2 separate regions of the Homo sapiens genome follow, and region 2 is linked to region 1. The links come from fine-mapping of genetic effects on gene expression. A gene starts in region 1. The other region holds a variant in brackets. All regions are shown on one strand. Distances are from middle to middle.

Region 1 (10,345 bases):
ACTAGCTGTTGTAACAATAAATGTACTGAGTAATGAAAATTGTCCATCTATCATCTATCTATCAATCACCTATCCATCATTTCCTAGCTCTGCTCACTCACAGAGCCTAGAAATGACACCCAGTAGCAATAAACACACCTAGCCCTGGATCTTTGTTTCTGAATGTCATCATCTCTTCTAAAAGAAACCAGGGCTTCCTGGAGAAACTGATGATTCCTGGACTTTCACAGGAAAAGTTCAAGGTGAGTTCATATAGCCCAGTGAATTAAAAAACAACAACAACAAAACAAGAGTCCAGGCTGGGTGCGGTAGTTCATGCCTGTAATCTCAGCACTTTGGGAGGCCGAGGCGGGCGGATCACCTGAGGTCTGGAGTTCAAGACCAGCCTGGCTAACATGGCAAAACCCCATCTCTACTAAAAATACAAAAAATAGCTGGGCGGGGTGGCGTGCGCCTGTTATTCCAGCTACTTGGGAGGCTGAGGCAGGAGAATCGCTTGAATCTGGGAAGTGGAGGTTGCAGTGAGCCAAGATCGTGCCACTGCACACCAGCCAGGGCAACAGAGTGAGACTCCATCTCAAAAACAAACAAACAAAAAACAAGAGTCCATAATGTTATTCCCAAAAGAAAAAAGAGGGTGAGAAGAAGGGAGTGAGAAAGATAGAGACAGGAAAAATTAATTCTTTTTTTTTTTTTTTGAGACGGAGTCTCACTGTCGCCCAGGCTGGAGTGCAGTGGTGTGATTTCGGCTCACTGCAACCTCCGCCTCCCAGGGTTCACGCCATTCTCCTGCCTCAGCCTCCCGAGTAGCTGAGACTACAGGCGCCCGCCACCTCGCTCGGCTAATTTTTTGTATTTTTAGTGGAGACAGGGTTTCACCTTGTTAGCCAGGATGGTCTCGATCTCCTGACCTCGTGATCCGCCCGCCTCGGCCTCCCAAAGTGCTGGGATTACAGGCGTGAGCCACCGCACCCGGCCAGGAAAAATTAATTCTATAAAAAAGAACACTAATAAACACAGAAGGAATGGCAGAATTAGAAAATTACCAATTTGCAACCCTCAGTGTTGTAATTCAAGCAAGGATCATCCAAGGATGTGGTGTGAAAGGTTATCAGGAACACATAATTATAACAGACTCAGAGAATCACTTCACAGATTACTTATTAATTGTAAGAGAGAAAAATTTACCTTTACGATAGAGAGATCAGGTTGCCATGACCTTAATAATCAAATTTAGCATTCATGGATAGTAAGACCCTGACATCATATCCTCCTGACATGCAGTAAGTACACACATTGCCAAAAACTTAAATCTAACCCCAATCTAATCATTGATAAACCAATCAAACATATTTAAATAGGTGGAGAAGCTCTATTTATTTATTTATTTATTTATTTGAGATAGAGTCACACTCTGTTGCCCAGGCTGGAGTGCAGTGGCACAATCTCGGCTCACTGCAACCTCCACCTCCTGAGTTCAAGCAATTCTCTTGCCTCAGCCTCCTGAGTAGCTGGGAGTATAGGCACACACCACCATGTCCGGCTAATTTTTGTATTTTTACTTGAGATGGGGTATCACCATGTTGGCCAGGCTGGTCTCGAACTCCTGACCTCAAGTGATCTGCCCACCTCAGCCTCCCAAAATGTTGGGATTACAGACATGAGCTACCATGCCAAGGGGCTCTATTTAGATTAAATGAGTTGATAAAAGAGATATAATAGGATGCAATATGTACATCTTGACTGGATCTGATTTTAAAAACCAGAAACTATATAAGGTATTTTTGGGCAATTAGAATTTTTTTTTTCTTGAGACAGGGTCTCACTCTGTCGCCCAGGCTGGAGTGCAGTGGCGCGATCATGGTTCACTGCAGCCTTGACATCCCCAGGCTCAGGTGATTTTCCCAAGTAGCTGGGACTACAGGTGCACGCTACCACACCATGCTAAATTTTGTAGTTTTTGTAGAGATGGGGTTTCACTATGTTGCCCAGGCTGGCCTTGAACTCCTGGGCTCAAGCAATCTGTCTGCCTTTGCTTCCCAAAGTGCTGGGGTTATAGACATGACCCATTGCACCTGGCAGAAAATTTTGAATAACTATTACATTGGGTAATACTGACTTCTTGCTTATTACATATAATGTATTATGGCTATGTAGTAGAACGCCCTTATTAGGGGATACATGTTGAAGAATTTAGGGGTCAAACGTCAATCAACATATCTGTAACTTACTTTTAAATAATTGGGCCAAAAAAGTGTGTGTTTGTGTAAAAGCACAATTGGCAAATTGTGATTTGGCGTATCTAGGTTAAGGGTTGTACTTTAAGCTTTTATGTAAGCTTGAAAATTTTAAAAATATTTGTATTTTAAAAGAGGGGGGAAGAACACTTCTTCATAGGGCCAATAGATGTAAAGTTACAGTCATTGTGCCAGACCCCAATAAGTCGCCAGATTTAGTAAGTTACAGATTTACTACTACTACTTAGAAGTGTGAAAAGCTCATAATTTTCCTTCCCAAGTGTTTCTGAATTTTGAAGGGTGAGGATGCCAACCAGGGCTAAGTGGTGGAGGAGTTAGAATCTAAGCCTGGGTGGGCAGTCTGGATAGAGCCACCACCCACAGAAACCACACCACTAGGCCTATTTTTTTTTTTTGAGATAGAGTCTCGCTCTGTCACCCAGTTTGGAGTGCAGTGGCGTGATCCTGGCTCACTGCGACCTCTGCCTCCCAGGTTCAAGTGATTCTCCTGCCTCAGCCTCCTGAGTAGCTGGGATTTCAGGTGCGTGCCACCATGCCCGGCTAATTTTTGTATTTTTAGTAGAGACGGGGTTTCACCACGTTGGCCAGGCTGGTCTCAAGCTCCTGACCTCAAATGATCCACCCACCTCAGCCTCCCAAAGTGCTGGGATTACAGGCGTGAGCCACCGCGCCCGGCCAGGTCTGCCTATCTTCTGTGCTGTGATTCTGCCTGGAAGAAGATGGCTGTTCAGGCCTTGTTTTTCCTGCCTCATCATGAACCCAGAATCTCTGTAACTCGGCAGGAAAGAAACTCCTGTCATGACTCACTGTGAATGTTGACAAAGAGAGGCCACTCCTGGGCCTCAGAAATGTCAAGGATGGGCAGAAAGAACTGGAGACAGGCCAGGCTCAGTGGCTCATGCCTGTAATCCCAGCACTTGGAAGGCCCAGGTGGGAGGATCGCTTGAGTTCAGGAGTTTGAGACCACCTGGACAACATAATGAGACCTCGTTTCTATAGAGAAAAAAAAAAATTAGCTGGGCATGGTAACACGTGCTTGCAGTCCCAGCTGCACAGGCTGAGGTAGGAGGATCGCTTGAGCCTGGGAGGTCAGGCTGCAGCAAGCCGAGATCACGCCACTGCACTCCAGCTTGGGCAACAGAGTAAGACCCTGTCTCAAAAAAAAAAAAAAAAAAAAAAAAAAAAAAAAAAAAGAAAAGAACTGGAGAGGCTGTGTGGGGTAGGGGCAGACCATGCATGGTATTCGGCATTACCTGGGTTTGCATTTGAATCATCCCCTGCCACTTACTAGCTGTGCAGCCCTGGGCACGTTCCTGGGCAGATGATGATGATCATAACAACAACAAACACTACAACGGCAATAATAATGGCTAACGTTTATTGAGCAGTTACTACCGTGCTAGGCACTCTATACATGTTAATCTCTTTCAATCTCACAGATTAAGTAGATACTATTATATACCTACTTTACAGACCAACCATACTGGGCCCTCTTCGACTTCTGCAATTTGGCATCTGCCATCCCCTCTGCCTGGACCTTGAAGACAAATCCCATGCATCGGCCAGGTCTCTCAGCTGGAATTCATTCCTTCTCCTCTGCATCTGCGGAGAATTTTAGTCTAACCCCTTACCACAGCCAACTTTACTTAAGTAGATGGATGCCTGGCTCCCTTGCTGGGGCTGGGGGTGCCCCTTTCTATATCCACAGAAGCACGTAGAATAGGGGAAGAGGAAGAAATTTCTCTCCTGTTTAGTCAGATCCATTTTCCCCACCTGGATTTTCAAAACTTTTTAATTTTGAAATGCTCTGTTCAATTTTCAATCTGGAATCTAAAGGGATGTGACAAGGCCGAGGTGATTACTTGGGAGTAAATGCAAGGAGAGTTTCCACTGCGTAAGGGAATGGACAGCACGTGGCTGGGTAAATTTCAAAAAAGACAATGCTCAGAGTGAGTACTGTGTTTTCCAGTAAGTGGGAGACTTCCCCACCTTACCCCACCGGAGAAAGGACTCTTTGCCTTGAAGCCCCTAGGACGACTACCCTTTCTTCACCTCCTCTTCCTGACCACCCCACATCAAAGAGCTGCGTCTATAATTCTGTCTTGCCCAGTCCATATCTCTAAGAAATCCGAAGGCTGCTCTATTACCATCACAACCCATAGGGAGGAGAGAAAAGGTGCTTCCTAGACACAGGGACCCCAGAATGAGCTGCGCAAAAGGCAGGAGGAGAGAAAGGTGGGCTGGAAGAAGGAGACCACGGAATCTGGCACGGCAAGGTATTCTTTCATCTGGCGTAGACCTCCAACAACCACTACCATCCCCCAGCCCCTTCCAGAACTTTCCTTCACCTTCTCGGCTCACTCTCACGCTTCACCTTGTGCTTTTCCTCCGGCACCAGCACCCCATTTCAAACCGCTCTCTTCCTATGTCTCCTCCAAACAGTAATTTATAAACACCGTGCTTTCAAATCCATCTCATTTCATCCTCACAGTACTATAGGAGGGCTGCCTTACAGGCTGTCATTCGGAAGGGTTGGGGGGACTGGTCCTGCCAGACAATTTGCGAAGGTCGGGGCATCAAAACTTTTCTTTCCTGCCTCCCACGCCAAGCTAAACCTCTGCCTCCCCGAGTGCAGGGAGAAAAGCAAGGTCTTTGAAGTAAGGAGTCCTGAGTGGTTTTAGGCAAGTCCCTTCGCTTTTCTGAGCCTCACATTCCTCACCTGTCAACCGCTATAGTGACGCCTCTACTTTTCAGGGCGTGGGAGGTCAATGAGATCACTGGTGTGCCGCACTGAACTCGGGGATGGACTCTTTATTTCCAGTCAGTAAAGGGAGGTGTTCTATGCATCACAGGCTTTTGCCCACGCCGCCACAGCGCGGCCGGCCCAGGGCTCTCCAGAGCGGGGCAAGTTCCCTGTCATCTGTGTCTCCGCCCTTCCTTCCCCAATCTCACCCAGGCTGGCCTCATCGGCTTGTTCCGCACCCACTCCCCAGCCCTACAGCCCCCACTCCGACCTGACAAGTGCCCCACCCCCACCTAGAGATCCCGCCTCTCCTTGCCCCACCCACCAAGGACTCCTCCCACAGTCCCGACCCTCATTATCCGGGCTTTTCCGACTATCACCATCCGCCCTTGCTCTCCCAACAGCCCCGCCCCTCTAAGAGCTCTGCCCACTTCGGCTCACCTCGCTCCGAAACGCGCCCCCTCCCCCGCACCACAGGCGATGCCATCCCCATTTCACAGATGGGAATGGCGAGGCTGGGATAGATTAGTCTCATGGTAAGACAGGTGCTCAGTGGGCCCACGTACCCTCGCCGGTAGTCCCCGAGCCCCGCGACCCCGGCCGTGCCGCACCCACCTCCTGCCCTCGCTCTGCAGCCTCTCCCTCCGCGAGCGGCCAGCGCAGCTTTGCGAGGGGGGCGGAGGGTAGGAGCCCAGCCCAGGGGCGTGGCGGTCCGGGGTCTGTGCGCTGCCTTCCGGGACTGGTAGTTCTCTCTGGGCTCCTCGCAGCTCGGCGCGTCGAGAGCGAACTCCATCTCCCAGGAGGCATTGCAGCGAGTTGCTCTGCGCCCCGCCTCGTCCCCGCCGGTGTCCGGCCGGCTGGCCTTAAAGGGGACGCGGTCAGAGTGGCAGCTCGCGGGGTGGCCCCCGCTCCGGCTCCGCCCCATTTCACGCACCTCGCCCCTCCCCATGCTTCATCCCGCAGCCCCGGGGCCGCGCCGCAGAGTCGGGCTTCCTGGATACATAGAGGCTTGTGCCAGGCGGGGTGGGAAGACTGGATTTTGCAGTGGAAGCAGCATCTCTTCCGTCTGGGACCTGGCTGAGGGCGTCCCCACCCTGGGGGGAGCAGAGGACCAGCCCTGACCTAGCCGGGCCCAGCCTCGTCCTGCCCGGCCTGAGCGCCCCGCCCAGCAGCCGGCTCTGGCCCACCGGGGTCCGGGAGGTAAGGGGGTTGGGGGCGTGTGACTGTCTTTGGGGGGCGGTGTCTGCACCCTGGCCTTTCGAGAACCCTGGACTTGCGAGCCCAGGGCTGGGAGTCGGGAGATCTGGGTGCATCCTGGGCCTCCTGGGCCTCACTGTGTGACCTTGGGCGAGTAGCTATTCCTCTCTGGGCATTAATCCCCTCCCTTCATCAATTGTATGTCGAAGTGATCCTGCTCCCTCCCCTTTCAGGTAAGAGGGCATTCGCACCCAGTACCTAGTACATTCGCTTGCTGGCTTTTCGTGGGGCCCTCCAGCTCAAGCGTGGGCTGGGCGCGGGTGCACTGGAGGGAGGGAGGTGGCACAAACTGGGGGGCCCGAGGCCACCATTGCTTGGAATGGGCTTTTCCTATTCTCAGTGTGCTGGGCCCTGGGATACCCTCCCCAACCCCCTCTTACGGCCCTGGCCCTTGCAAACCGGAGACCCTGATGTGTCAGCTTGGTGCCCTTCCTTCCAGAAAGCTTGGGGTGGAGTGCGGCCCTCACAGGTTTGTGAGGGGTGGCCCCGCAGGGATAGGTGTGTGTGGTGGGTTCCTGAGGAGGAATAGCTGCTCCTGCTTTCTTCCCTTCTCTCTCCTCCTTATCCTTTGAGGAAGAGCAGCTGCTTTTTACCAGTGAAACCCTTTTTTCTTTTTCTTTCCAGGAGACAGTTTGGTGGCCCAGACATGGGCCTCCCGGAGTAGGGTGAAGCACTTCTTCCCAGGGTTGCCTTGGGTAGAAGTTCAGTTAAAAAATACCTAGAGAGATGCTGCCATTCAGACACCTGAGGGGCCAGAGATGGAGGGCACCACCTGGTGTCGGGAGGGGCAGCCTGGTACCCCCAAGGAAGCTCTGGCTCCCAGGGGAGTCAAAGGAGGGAGGCTGGCTTCGAGGGTCAGAGAGGGGAGGAAATGTGCTCCTCAGCTCTTAGGTGCTGAGCAGAGGCTGGGAGGGGCTGCTCTGACCTGGAGCAGGGAGAGGTTGAGTAACACCATGAAGCCTTCTTCTCAGGTCCTAGGAGATTCTGTGAGCTTTTGACCTGAAGGCTAACCAGGAACAGATTTTTGTTTTGTTTTGTTTTGTTTTTGTTTTGTGCTTTTTCTTTTGCTTTGGTTGTTTGAACAATTTCTAGAATGGCTAAAGCCTCAGTCCAGTCCAGTGACCTCTGTAGGGGCTTTCTTGACTGATGTTTAAGATTTTCAGGGTTTTTGATATGCAAGACCAGGCCTGGGCAAAGGAGGGGGTGGTGACTGGACCAAAGGTTAGGCCAGTTTCTGGAAGGTACTTTTGTGGTTACATCTTTGGTTTTCTCTCATCTTGCTGTCACATGTCTCTCATGAGTTGCTTGACGCACCTTCACGGACACCTCAGTCCTTGGTTCTGTACTGGGCACTGGGCTCAGAGACGGGGATTGGACCTCTGCCAAGGGAGGTCCCAGCCTGGTGGGAGACAGAGACATGGATTCCAGTTATGCTGCAGAGGGATGAGAATAGCTAAGAGGGCCTTGGAGGCCAGAACTTTAGACACTTGAATTGTGGAGGGAAAAGGAAAGGCTTCCCAGAGGAGAGGGCATGTGAGCTGGGCATTGAAGGGTGAGTCAGAATTTTCCAGGAGAGAAGAGGGAAAAGCCCTTTTTCAGTAGAGGGGACATTGTGCAAAGTAGCAGTCAGGAAAAAGCCCCCTGCTCCAATGTCTGCAGAGTCTCCACTGAACAATGTTGCTTGAGTTCATCTCCACCCCTGCCCCACATCAGCTGAGTGTCACAGAAAGGGCTTGCATGTCCGGCTCAGGAGTTTGGACCTTATTCTGGGTCCAAGGGGCTGGAGAGTGTTGAGAGTTCTGAGCAGGGGCATGGACGGAATGGTGCTTACCGTGTAATAAGCTCCATCTGACGATGCTGCATCTGGAGAGACCAAGGAGGGATGATGAAGCTTGAGCGGGGGCCCAGGGCGTGGCAGTGGGGCTGAGCATAGGAGTTGTGTACACACACATACACACACACACACAGGGTGCTTTGGGGTGATGGAGATAAGTCAGGCTCAACTGTGCAGGAGCAGAGATCAGTCAACACTCGGCAGAAATGTTGAGGGTCATCCGAGAGGAACAGGTGAAAGGATCTGGGCCTTTTGGCAGAGGGATTGGGATTTTCCTGAGTGCTCACTGCGTGCCTTGGAGTGTGCTGGTGTTGCTGGGACGCCCCTCAGGCTGTCATGCCAGTAGGGCGAGGGGTATGAGGCAAGGGCTTGGGAGGAGCAGCAGCGCTGGCTGGGAAAGGCTAAGGGGTGGGCACGTAGTCACCTTCTATTTGGGCATTCCGAGGATCACAGAGGTAAAAGAACACCTACCTCCATGGTGGCTGGGCTAGACTCGAAGCCTGGACTCTGTTCTCCTCTAGGACACATGCCTCTGTTGGAGGATGGATTGAGGGAGGGAATTGGGAGATGGGTTAGGAGGCTACTGCACTAGTCCAGGCAAGAAGTCAAGGGGTCTGATCCTGGGTGGGGCTGGGAACACCGAAGTGGCAGGGAGGGCTAATGGAGGAAATGCCTTGGAGAATCAGCAGGATCAGCAGTGCGTGTCTCCTTGTCTCCTTTCCCTGACAGTATCTGTGTCTCCCATCAGTGCCAGGTGGCCCAAAAATAGACTCATGACAGCCCGGCCCTCATCTTTTTTTTTTTTTTTTTTTTGAGACGGAGTCTTGCTCTGTCCCCCAGGCTGGAGTGCAGTGGCATGATCTCGGCTCACTGCAAGCTCCGCCTCCTGGGTTCACGCCATTCTCCTGCCTCAGCCTCCTGAGTAGCTGGGACTACAGGTGCCCGCCACCACGCCCGGCTAATTTTTTGTATTTTTAGTAGAGATGGGGTTTCACCGTGTTAATGAGGACCTCATCTTTTTTATACCTTGTCTCAACCCTGTGAATGGTAGGCTTGGAATAGTCCCCATTTTCCAGATGAGAAGGCTAAGAAGCCAGGCAGGGGCTCACCCAAGGTCACCATGACTTTGAAGCAGAAAACCTGTATCTTCAGCTTTTAACACAGGCTCTCCTCGGGGAGGACATGGCTGCTGTTTGCTGCTGCGGTTGGTGCGGGGCAGCTGTCTCTTGAGTCAGAGCCAGCATGGACAGGCCATCTCCTCACCCGGGGCTTAGCAGGCTAATCCAGCCCTCCTGAGGGAGGCAGAGTGCAGGTTCTAATCCTGCTTTGCCAAGGCCATGTTCCTCTCTCTGAGCCTCACTTTCTTCATTCCTGCCAGTGGGATAGCTGGCCTTGTCCTCCCTTCCCTGGCCTGATGGGGCCAGGTGAGGTGCAAGCCTCTAAAACCCTTTTGTCTGAGTGCATGCAAGATATTGAGTGGGTTTGCTGGTGACCATGGTGACAGCTGTCCTCAGACTGCCTGCGTGGGAGTTGGGGCAGGTGGGCAGGGCTTGCTTGCTGTGGCCAGGCTACGGACTGAGCAGAGGCTGCCGGCTGGCCTTGGAGATCAGAGCTCTCATGGAGCAGCTCTATTTGAACTGTCAGCTGCCAGGCTTATGTGGTGTTAGGTAGAACAACATGAAATTGCCAACATTTGATCATTCGGTTTCATGCGGTTCAGTCTAATAGCATTTGTCCCCATTTTACAGAAAAGAGGCTCATGGGTATGATTTACTGAGGGTCACACAATGAGTCAGGGCTAGAATGTAGGACTCCTCATTCCTAGTCTGATACTCTTTCTACTCTTTCTAGTACTCTTTCTACTACCAGAGTCTTCCCTGTCTCCAGAACTCCATTTCTGCCTGCCCCCATGCCCTCTTGCTTCACACATGATGCCAGTGCCTCATGGATTAGGGTTTCTTCTTGGCTGCCTGAGTACCAGGATTTCTTGGCATCCTGGGTTGAAAGCATATGAAATCCACTAGCCATCCCAGGGGTCTGGGAGGATGGACTGTTTGTGTGGGGGAGGTTGGCCACAGCAACTGCCTTGTCACGGGCACTGCCTAGAAAGGGGACCAGGGCTGAAGGGAGAGTTAAAAAAATTTTTTTTCTTTTTTCTTTTTTGAAACAGGAACTCACTTAGTCACCCAGGCTGGAGTGCAGTGGCGTGATCTCAGCTCACTGCAACCTTCGCCTCCCAAGCTCAAGTGAGCC
Region 2 (10,345 bases), 75 kb before region 1:
ATGCCTATAATCCCAGCACTTTGGGAGGCCAAGGCAGGCAGATCACTTGAGGTTAGGAGTTCAAGAACAGCCTGACCAACATAGTGAAACCCCATCTCTACTAAAAATACAAAAAAAACTAGCTGGGCGTGGTGGTACATACCTGTATTCCCAGGTACTCTGGAGGCTGAGGCAGGAGAATCGCTTGAACCTGGGAGGCAGAGGTTGCAGTGAGCTGAAATTGCGCCACTGCACTCCAGCCTAGGTGACAGACCGAGACTGTCTCAAAAAAAAAAAAAAAAAAAAAAATTGGCCGGGCCTAGTGACTCACGCCTGTAATCCCAGAACTTTGGGAGGCTGATGCAAGTCGATTACGAGGTCAGGAGTTCAAGACCAGCCTGGCCAAGATGGTGAAACCCTGTCTCTACTAAAAACTACAAAAAAGGCCGGGTGTGGTGGCTCAGGCCTATAATCCCAGCACTTTGGGAGGCCGAGGTGGGCGGATCACGAGGTCAGGAGATCGAGACCATCCTGGACAACATGGTGAAACCCTGTCTCTACTAAAATACAAAAAAAATTAGCCGGGCGTGGTGGTGCATGCCTGTAGTTCCAGCTACTCAGGAGGCTGAAGCAGGGGAATCGCTTGAACCCAGGAGGTGGGGGTTGCAGTGAGCTGAGATCGTACCACTACACTCCAGCCTGGCAACAGAACAAGACTCCCGTCTCAAAAAACAAAAACAAAAACAAAAACAAAACTACTGCAAAACAATTAGCTGGGTGCAGTGGCAGGCGCCTGTAATCCCAGCTACTTGGGAGGCTGAGGCAGGAGAATCGCCACTGCACTCCAGCCTGGATGACGGAGTGAGACTCTGTCTCAAAAAAAAAAGAAATTAATTATACTATCAAAATTAATAATTAAGTTCTGGGATGTACAGTCTAACAACTTATTACATCTTCATAATTAGTTTACTAATAGTTCATTTATTAATGAACCTAATAGGTCAAACTACAGAAGTCCATAGATGCTTTTGAGCCAATAAATTAGATTTACCATATTAATAAATACTTAGTTTTATTGGCTGGAAGGCCATAGAAACTATATGTACCTCATAAGGCTGAAATTTTAGGAAAAATGTTTTACCTCAATTAAAATATGTGAACAAACAGCCCAACAGAGCTTAATTATCTACATACCTGTACTGTCATGTAATTAAGTGGAATCAGGTGGTTGCTAGCAGGTTTGAAACATTCAGAAACCAAAATTAAAGATGAGTGTAATTATCGATAGGATTGAGTTGTTTATATTGAATTCTACTAAAATTATACCATGAAATTGAGGTCACTGCAATCACTAATGAAATTTTAGAAATTAAAGTTTCTAAAGTACTTAGAATGAGGCCTCTAAGAGCATCTTACTCATATTAGGCTCATCTTAGGCTCAAAAAGCCTTTGTCGACTCTCTCAACTCATTATCACCATCAAGACAAAACATCCACGCTGTCCAGATACATTTGGAATTTTGATGATTTAGCTAACGGTGAGAAAAACAAACCAAATCTGGATGTCCCTGCCACAAACATTTCCTTCTTTCTCTGCAGCATGATCCATGCCTCTTCCTCTCTGGGCTTTTCTTTTTCCCTTCCCCCGGGTGAACAGATGGTCTAACAGCCACTGGCAAGAATCTCTCACAAAGGCTTTACTGGTAATCCTTCCTTATGGTATTCAAAGTTACTCTAAGAATTGCTAGGAAATGCTTCAATCTGCAGAAGGATTACAGGCATGAAATTTATCCTACAGTTGGAAGAGCTTGAAAGTTGAAATTTAATCAGCCAGACAAAAGAAAAGCAGAGAAAACTCAAGAAATGAGCACCATCTGTTGAGTTCTTACCAATATGGCAATCAGTGTGCAGATGAGGGTTGCCAAGGGAGTCACTGAGGGAAGGACTGTGTGTTGGAACTGCTGAACCAAACCACTTGTCATTGAGGCCTTGGGAATATTGTTGGGATCAAGAAATTTCAATTTCAAACCTATTAAACAGATATTTTGTTTTGTTTTATTTTTATCTTTATTACTGAGATACCATATATTAACAATCAATTCCTTGAGGAATAAAAAGTAAGCTACTAAATCTTATTGCTGCTTAAAGGCTAAGATTTCATGAATTTAATCCTATACTATTCTACCCAAAATGCCTCTGGTCTTAAGATTATAATATATAAAGCAGCTCTTTGCATTGGAACAGGGAATTTGTGCAGCTTATAGGAAACTTGCTGGCAGGCAGCACAAATGGTAATCTGCTCTCACCTCTGAAAGCAAGCTTCTAGAACAGTCTGAGCATGTCATGAAGGAACTTTGAATCCTTCATCTCCTATGGGAGAAACCCTCTATTCCTAAACATAGTATCCAGTGTCTTCCATGATCTCATCGCCCCTTCCCCCCTGTTCAATCTCATCTTTACTTTGTTAAATGCGGCTTGGCCACAATGAAGTAACTGTGAGTCCTCAATATACCACTCTCAACACCTGTGTCCCTCTGCCCAGGCAACTCCCTTTGCCAAATTAACTTCTAATTCAATCACCTGAGAAAGCTCCTAAATCAATAAGCAGAACTGATTTTCTTGTGAGCTCACTTTTTTTTTTTGAGATGGAGTCTTACTCTGTCACCCAGAGACAGAGGCTGGAATGCAGTGGCGCAATCTCAGCTCACTGCAGCCTCTGCCTCCCAGGTTCCAGGTTCCAGCGATTCTCCTGCCTCAGCCTCCCCATTAACTGGGATTACAGGCATGTGCCACCATGCCCGGCTAATTTTTGTATTTTTAGTAGAGACGGGGTGTCACCATGTTGGCCAGGCTGGTCTCGAGCTCCTGACTTCAGGTGATCCGCCCATCTCAGCCTCCCAAAGTGCTAGGATTACAGGCCTGAGCCAACGTGCACAGCTGAGTGAGCTCACTCTAACAGTGTTCACCACAAGGCACTGCACTTGTTTATGTGCTCATTTCCTCTACTATACTGTATTCCTTGAAGGCAGGAATGATGATGAGTTCATTTCTATCCCCAGTACATAGGAGCTCAATAAATACTTGGTTATTAAATAAATCAATTCAGAGAATGACAATACAAGCCCCAACAAGCTCTGGCTAATAGGACAGTCAGAGACAGTTTGAGCACCTATAGGGCCTGTCAAATGCCAGTGAAAATGAATACAATGTGGGAAAGATGTACCAAAATATTTTCTACTTACTAACCTCTTCCCCTTTCCCCTTTGGCCTGCTGATTCTCTCTTACAGCTAATAACTATCTCCCTAAAACAAAGTTGTCTAACTCTGACACTGACTTTCCATGTAAAACATCTTCAAAGACACAAACATACAAGTGAGGGTACAGTACAGCTTCCTGACTCAGACAAGGCAACTGGCCCTTGTACCTCATACTATGCTGGCTGTTTAAAGCTTTTTTTGAAATATGAATGTTAGGAATTACTCTGTAAGAATGCCATGTACATCAAGGCTAGATTCACAGTGAGCAACACGGTGACACAATGTATAAGTCATCACATAGGCAGTGTATGATCTCCTCCAAGTACTTATCAAAAACAGTAATAGTGGCCACCATGCATGGAGCGTCTACCATGTGCCCAGGGCTCTGCACTTACTACTTTTAGCCCCCTGAGGTACAGAGATGGAGTAACCTGCCCAAAGTCACACAACTAATAGGTGGTAAAACTGAACTCAGGTTTGTCTGGCTCCAAAGTCTCTGCTACTGATAACCTAGTACTTTTTAAATTTTGCTTCTGTTCCTCACAACACACTGTATAGGTACAGGTAAAGTACTAGTATGTCTTTCGTATAGTGAGGAAAGTTAGACGAAAGGAAGCAAATGACTTGTCAATGCCACACACTGCAATAGCAATTTACACAGGTGAGCCTCCAAACCAAGTCATCAGACTCTAGGTCTGGAGTCCACAAACTATAGGCCAACAGCCAAATGTAGCCTGTGCCCAGTTTTTGCACAGCACTGAAGTATGAATGGTTTTTACTTTTATAAGGTTTTAAACAAATGTGTGCATACACAAATACAGACACAGACACACATACACACACACACACTGTGTGTGGCCTGCATAGCTTAAAATATTATCTGGCCAGTTACAGAAAAAGTTTGCTGACCACCACTCTTGATCATGCCATTTTCCCACCAAGCTAGATTGTATTCACAAATGAGAGACTGTGTTATCCAGAGTGAGTTATTTTTAGTAGAACCATCTCAAACCATAACTTATTTTTCATTACGACCCAATTTTAAAAACCATAGCCTGGGTTTTTCATTTCTTCTCACCTCATGTTAAAATGCAGGGTTATTTTCCTTACTGGTTTAATACCGAGAGTCACAACTTACATATTCTTCTTTCTTGTATGTTTAGGTTTAAAAGTGGGGTAGGCCAGGCATGGTGGCTTGTGCTGGTAATCCCAGCACTTTGGGAAGCCAAGGTGGGAGGATCATTTGAGACCAGAAGTTTGATCCCACTCTGGGCAACATAGTGAGACCCTCATCTCTAAAAAACAAAAATTTAAAAATCAGCCAGGTGTGGTGGTATGCACCTGTGGTCCCAGCAACTCAGGAGGCTGAGACAAGAGGACTGTTTGAGCCCAGGAATTTAAGGCTGCAGTGCACTATGATCTCAACACCATTGCACTCCATCCTGGGTGACAGTGAGACCCTGTCTCTAAAAATAAGTAGGGGTTTGAATAGGAATGGTGAGAAGGGGGGAAAAAAAGCAGGGTTAACTGCTGCTGCTGAATAGTTTTTTAATTAAGGCAAAAATTACCTTTATAGAGTGTCTACATATTTTATTTTTTCCCCAGGAAAGGATCAATAACCTCATTACCACAAGGAGCTTTTATAAGGAAAACAGTCTGTTTACTGCACTAAAGCCTCAGTCCCAAGAACTGCTCCCCCT[G/A]TTCATCCTGAAAGCTGAAATGCAGGACTGGAGAACAAACAATTCAGCCACATTCAAAACACAAAGGTTTTTCCATTTCTCCATGTGCCTAAGTCCTTTCAATATTCAGAGTCTGAGTAAAAAATGCTCGCTACCATACCGATGACAGACAGCACTTTGTCCAAAGCATTGTACAAAGCCCAGAAGTTTGGAGCCCAATATGCATGACAGAGGCCCCTCTTGAAAGGAAAGAGTCGGGAAAAGACTTGAGGCAGCTGATTCTGTTGAAAAGAGAAATGAAACTGATTAAACAGTCATCAATCTTTTTCAAATTCAAAAAGAGAACTAGGGAACTCTCTATGGTATAGTGTGTAGAAAGTTATGGGGTCTGGGTTCTAGTAAGTAAGTGGTTATATGCTCACCACAATGTAAGTTCACAGAACCTTCTTTTGGTCTCACTTTGTCCACTGTCCAGTGGGACAATATACATAAAAATACTCTGAATACCCGTCCATACTATTATAATAACAGAAGAATTTACAAGCTACAAAGCAGAACACAGACTGCAGCTTATCCATGTCTACTAGGGTGAAGGGGAGAGCTGGGAAACTACAAAAGATGTGACGCGTTTCAGTTTTAGTAAGAATTAAAATTAATTAGTTGATTTCAGGGCAGGGAAGAAGAGGAAGAAAGAAAACATCTGAACATCTGTTAAATTCTATGCACTTTAGAATGTCTGCTGTCCATGTAAGACTGCAAAATTATTGATTTTGTTACAAATACATTTTATCAAGTAAGTAAACTTACAAGTACAGAATACACAAATAATGAAGATCAATTCTGTGTTTGTGTATGTGTAATGTACAGTTAAACATATACATGTATATATATATACATATTTGAATGTGCACAAAAATGTCTGAAAGAATACTACCTTATCGGGCCAAGAGCGGTGGCTCATGCCTTTAATCCCAGCACGTTGGGAGGCTGAGGCAGGTGGATCACCTGAGGTCAGAAGTTCGAGTCCAGCCTGACCAACATGTTGAAACCCTGTCTCTACTAAAAATACAAAAATTAGCCAGGCATGGTGGCATGTGCCTGTAATCCCACCTACTCAGGAGGCTGAGACAGGAGAATCGCTTGAATCCAGGAGGTGGAGGTTGCAGTGAGCCGAGATCACGCCACTGCATTCCAGCCTGGGCGACACAGTGAGACTCCATCTTAAACAAAAACAAAAAAAAAAAAGGAATACTGCCCTATCTTTGGGGAGTCACGTTGGGTAAGGAGTAAGAAAAAAGTAGCTTTTACTTATTTTACATATTCCTGGCTTTATTAGGTTTTCTAAACACCAACAAAGAACATGTATTAATTGAAAAAAAAAAAAAAAAAGGCTTACCAAGGCCAGGAAAGGACCCAATGAAAGAGCAGAAACTAAGAAAACAACCAGTCCCAGGGAAATAACACGAACAAAGCTGAAACTCTTCCATCGAATAGACCCATCTACAGAAAAGGAACATTATCAGTAACCAGGAAGATGGAAAGGAACATTAACCATAACCTATATCATGTGCTAAAACTAGAAGTATCCCACAATAGTATACCAATCTATTCATGATGTGGCAAGAGCAGAGAAAAGCGAGAATGGGTAAAGGGCTTACAGGATTAGCAGCTGAGATATCTGCTGTGCTTCATAAAACCTTCTTATCAAGCAAGCCACCAAGTCAACACAGTAAGGGAAAAATCGAAAATGTTTTTGCTATTATTACCAAAACTTGCCTGGTTTATTTGCAGTGAAACAGTAGGATCGCAGCAGATATACACCATAAGCTGGTGCTACATAGAGGTAGATATGCTTGAAATGTAGGAGAACAGCAAAGAGAAATGCTCCTTCCATATGCCTTTTCTAGGAGATTTAAAAGGGAAATATCACTTTAAAATTCAGGGTAAATGAAATGCAATAATGTGGTATTCTAGATTGAATCCTGGAACAGAACAAGGACATTAAAGGAAAAACGGGTGAAATTCAAATGCATCAATATTGCTTTCTTAGTCTTGATGAATGTACCATGGTTATGTAAGGTGGTAATGGGGGAAAATGGGTGAGGGATATATAGGAACTCTCTGTACTATTTCTACAACTTTTCTGGAAAGCTAAAATTATCCTACAAAAAGGTTATTTAAAAAACTAAAATTAGGCTAAGTGTGGTGACTCACACCTGCAATCCCAGCACTTTGGTAAGCCGACGTGGAAGGATTGCTTGACCCCAGGAGTTCAAGACCAGCCTGGACAAAATAGGGAGGCCCTGTCTCTACAAAAAAATAAAAAATAAAAAAAATTAGCTAGGCGTGATGGCTTGCACCTGTAGCACCAGCTACTCTGGAGGCTGAGGTGAGAGAATCTGCTTTAGCCCAGGAGGTGGAGGCTGCAATGAGCCATGATGACGACACTGCACTCCAACTTGGGTGACAGAGTGAGACCCTGTCTCCAAAATGAATAAATAAATAACAAAAATAAACAATACCTACTTTTTTAAATTTTTATTTTATTTTATTTTATTTGAGATGGAGTCTCCCTCTGTCTTACCCAGGCTGAAGTGCAGTGGCACAATCCTGACTCACTGCAGCCTCCGCCTCCTCGGTTCAAGCAATTCTCCTGTCTCAGCCTCCCGAGTAGCTGGGACTACAGGCGTGTGCCAACACACCCGGCTAATTTTTGTATTTTTTAGTAGAGACAGGGTTTCACCATGTTGGCCAGGCTGGTCTCAAACTCCTGACCTCAGGTGATCCACCTGCCTCGGCCTCCCAAAGTGCTGGGATTACAGGCGTGAACCGCCATGCTTGGCCCAAGGTAAATATTCTATAACCAGTATAAGGAAAACATAGGCAAGTGATTCCAGCTAGCTTTTTTTTTGAGACGGAGTTTTGTTCTTGTTGCCCAGGCTGGAGTGCAATGGCACGGTCTCGTTTACTGCAACCTCCACTTTCCGGGTTCAAGTAATTCTCCTGCCTCAGCCTCCCAAGTAGCTGGGATTACAAGTGCCCACCACCACGCCTGGCTAATTTTTTTGTATTTTTAGTAGAGATGGGGTTTCACCATGTTGGCCAGGCTGGTCTCAAACTCCTGGCCTCAACTGATCCACCTGTCTCAGCCTCCCAAAGTGCTGGGATTACAGGCATGAGCCACTGCGACCAGCCCAGCTAGCTTTTATACTGAGTCTAATGTGTTCATAAATTCACTATTCCAACAAAGATTTATCACATACTAAGCCTTATGCTGAGATCATATCCTACATGTCATCAGTAATAACATACTGCAAACTCTCCTTTAGGAATTAGAGCCCAGAGAATTAAATTACCTTCACCCCTCACAGTTTCAGAATAGCTGGAGTTGATTTCCAAAGAAGGGCTGGGAATGAGAACATGAACAAATATATAGGATGCTATGCTACCAAAAAAATCAATTGAATTTTATATTGTAGATTAGGTAACTTATATAGCACTATCAGGCTGAAGGCACCAGTCACTGCACTTGATACAAACACTACTTAGGAAAACTAAAGGTATTCTGATGTAAAAAGAACAAACAAAGGCCAGGCGTGGTGGCTCATGCCTATAATCCCAGCACTTTGGGAGACCGAGGCGGGTGGATCACTTGAGGTCAGGAGTTTGAGACCAGCCTGGCCAACATAGTGAAACCCTGTCTCTACTAAAAATACAAAAAATTAGCCAGGCATGGTGGTGGGTGCCTGTAATCCCAGCTACTTGGGAGGCTGAGACACGAGAATCACGTGAGGTGGAGGTTGCAGTGAGGTGGAGGTTGCAGTGAGCTGAGATCGCGCCACTGCACTCCAGCCTGGGTGACAATGCAAGATGCTATCTCCAAAACAAACAAACAAACAAACAAAACAAAACCAGCTTACTATAACTAAGAAGTTATAGTAAGAATTTGGCTGGGTGGGGTGGCTGACACCTGTAATCCCAGCACTTTGAGAGGCTGAAGTGGGTGGATCACGAAGTCAGGAGATCCAGACCATCTTGGCTAACATGGCGAAACCCCGTCTCTAGTAAAAATACAAAAAATTAGCCGGGAGTGGTGGTGTGCACCTGTGGTCCCAGCTAACTGGAGGCTGAGGCAGGAGGACTGTTTGAGCCCAGGAGGTTGAGGTTACAGTGTGCTGTGACTCCACCACTGCATTCTCCAGCCTGGGTGACACAGCATGACGTTGTCTTCAAAAAAAAAGAAAGTCTGAAATCTATCCACCTCACAGGAATTTCGGAAGGATTAAATGAGATAACAGTCCTGATGTTCTGCAGGGGAAACTGCCACAGGGACCATGAAAGGCCAGTTTCCTTCTCTCATCAGGTGCGGTCTAGAATTGGTAGCTTTAGGAGTAATAACAAAAAAGAGTGGGAATGCTTCTAGGTCTCTCTTCAATTTTATAACTTATTTAAGATCTGGGTAAGGTCTAGCTGATTCCATAGTCAAATTTTATTTGTTCAATAAGCATCCAACAAATATTCATTGAACACCAGTTATATTCTAATTACTATGAAGCTTTTTATGGTTAAAAGAGAAAAGTTTATCCAGACATTTATAGTTGACAAAGAACTTTAGATTATCAAATTTGATCTTTCCAATGTCCCTGTGAGGTAAGTAGCCCCATTTTACAACTAAGAATGTAGCGGTAAATTTCATTTTATGGGGAAAATGAGGCTAGGAGGGTTAAATAACTTGCCTTCAGTTAATGGTTCTCAAGCCTGATGGTGTATCAAAATTCCTTAGAGAGTCTTAAGCCCCATTCCCAGAGACTTCGATTCCATGTACAAAGGGATGGCCCCAAAATCTGAATTTCTGATTTCCTCCTCTATAGGAGGAATAATAATTCTAACAACTTCACAGAATGGTTCTGAAGTTTACTCAATAAGATATATGTAAGCCAGGTGTGGTGGCACACATCTGTAATCCCAGAGACTCAGAAGCAGAGGTAGGAGGATTGTTCAAGGCCAGGAGTTCAAGACCTGTCTCTAATCCTAGCACTTTGGGAGGCCAGAGTGGGAGGATCACTTGTGGTCAGGAGTTTAAGACCAGCCTGGACAACATAGTGAAACCTCCTTCTCTACCAAAAAAAAAAAAAAAAATTAGCCAGGTATGGTGGTGTGCACCTGTAATTCTAGCGACTCAGGAGGCTGAGGTGAGAGAATTGCTTGAGCCCAGGAGTTTGAGGAGGCAGTGAGCCATGATTGCGCCAGTGCACTCCAGCCTGGGTGACAGAGCAAGACTCCAACTCTTAAGAAAAAAAAAAGACCGGGAGCGGTGGCTCACGTCTGTAATCCCAGCACTTTGGGAGGCCGAGGTGGGCAGATCACGAGGTCAGGAGATCAAGACCATACTGTAAATGGTGAAACTCCGTCTCTACTAAAAATACAAAA

Direction of the effects. Alleles are on the strand shown, and positions count from the first base shown. SD is a standard deviation of normalised expression in the study named.
With allele G in place of A in region 2, the expression in spinal cord of the gene that starts at base 5,670 in region 1 is lower (moderate effect, 0.50 SD a copy in GTEx).

What was found. PIP is the estimated chance that this variant, and not a neighbour inherited with it, causes the effect.
Region 2: its variant is fine-mapped to the expression of KCTD21 in spinal cord (GTEx, PIP 0.93).

Annotation. Positions count from the first base shown.
Region 1 is chr11:78,182,957-78,193,301 of GRCh38, forward strand. It overlaps KCTD21 (potassium channel tetramerization domain containing 21), which reads right to left and starts at 5,670. Exons shown (of 2, transcript NM_001029859.3): 1 at 5,617-5,670. USP35 (ubiquitin specific peptidase 35) reads left to right here and starts at 5,963. Exons shown (of 11, transcript NM_020798.4): 1 at 5,963-6,201. RefSeq lists silencers at 5,387-5,726, 6,157-6,316.
Region 2 is chr11:78,107,575-78,117,919 of GRCh38, forward strand. ALG8 (ALG8 alpha-1,3-glucosyltransferase) reads right to left here. Exons shown (of 13, transcript NM_024079.5): 6 at 6,692-6,818; 7 at 6,312-6,415; 8 at 5,076-5,196; 9 at 1,868-2,007. Among named protein-coding and RNA genes, the nearest start is that of ALG8, 27 kb to the right of the region's middle. The variant G/A (reference allele first, on the strand shown) is at 4,937.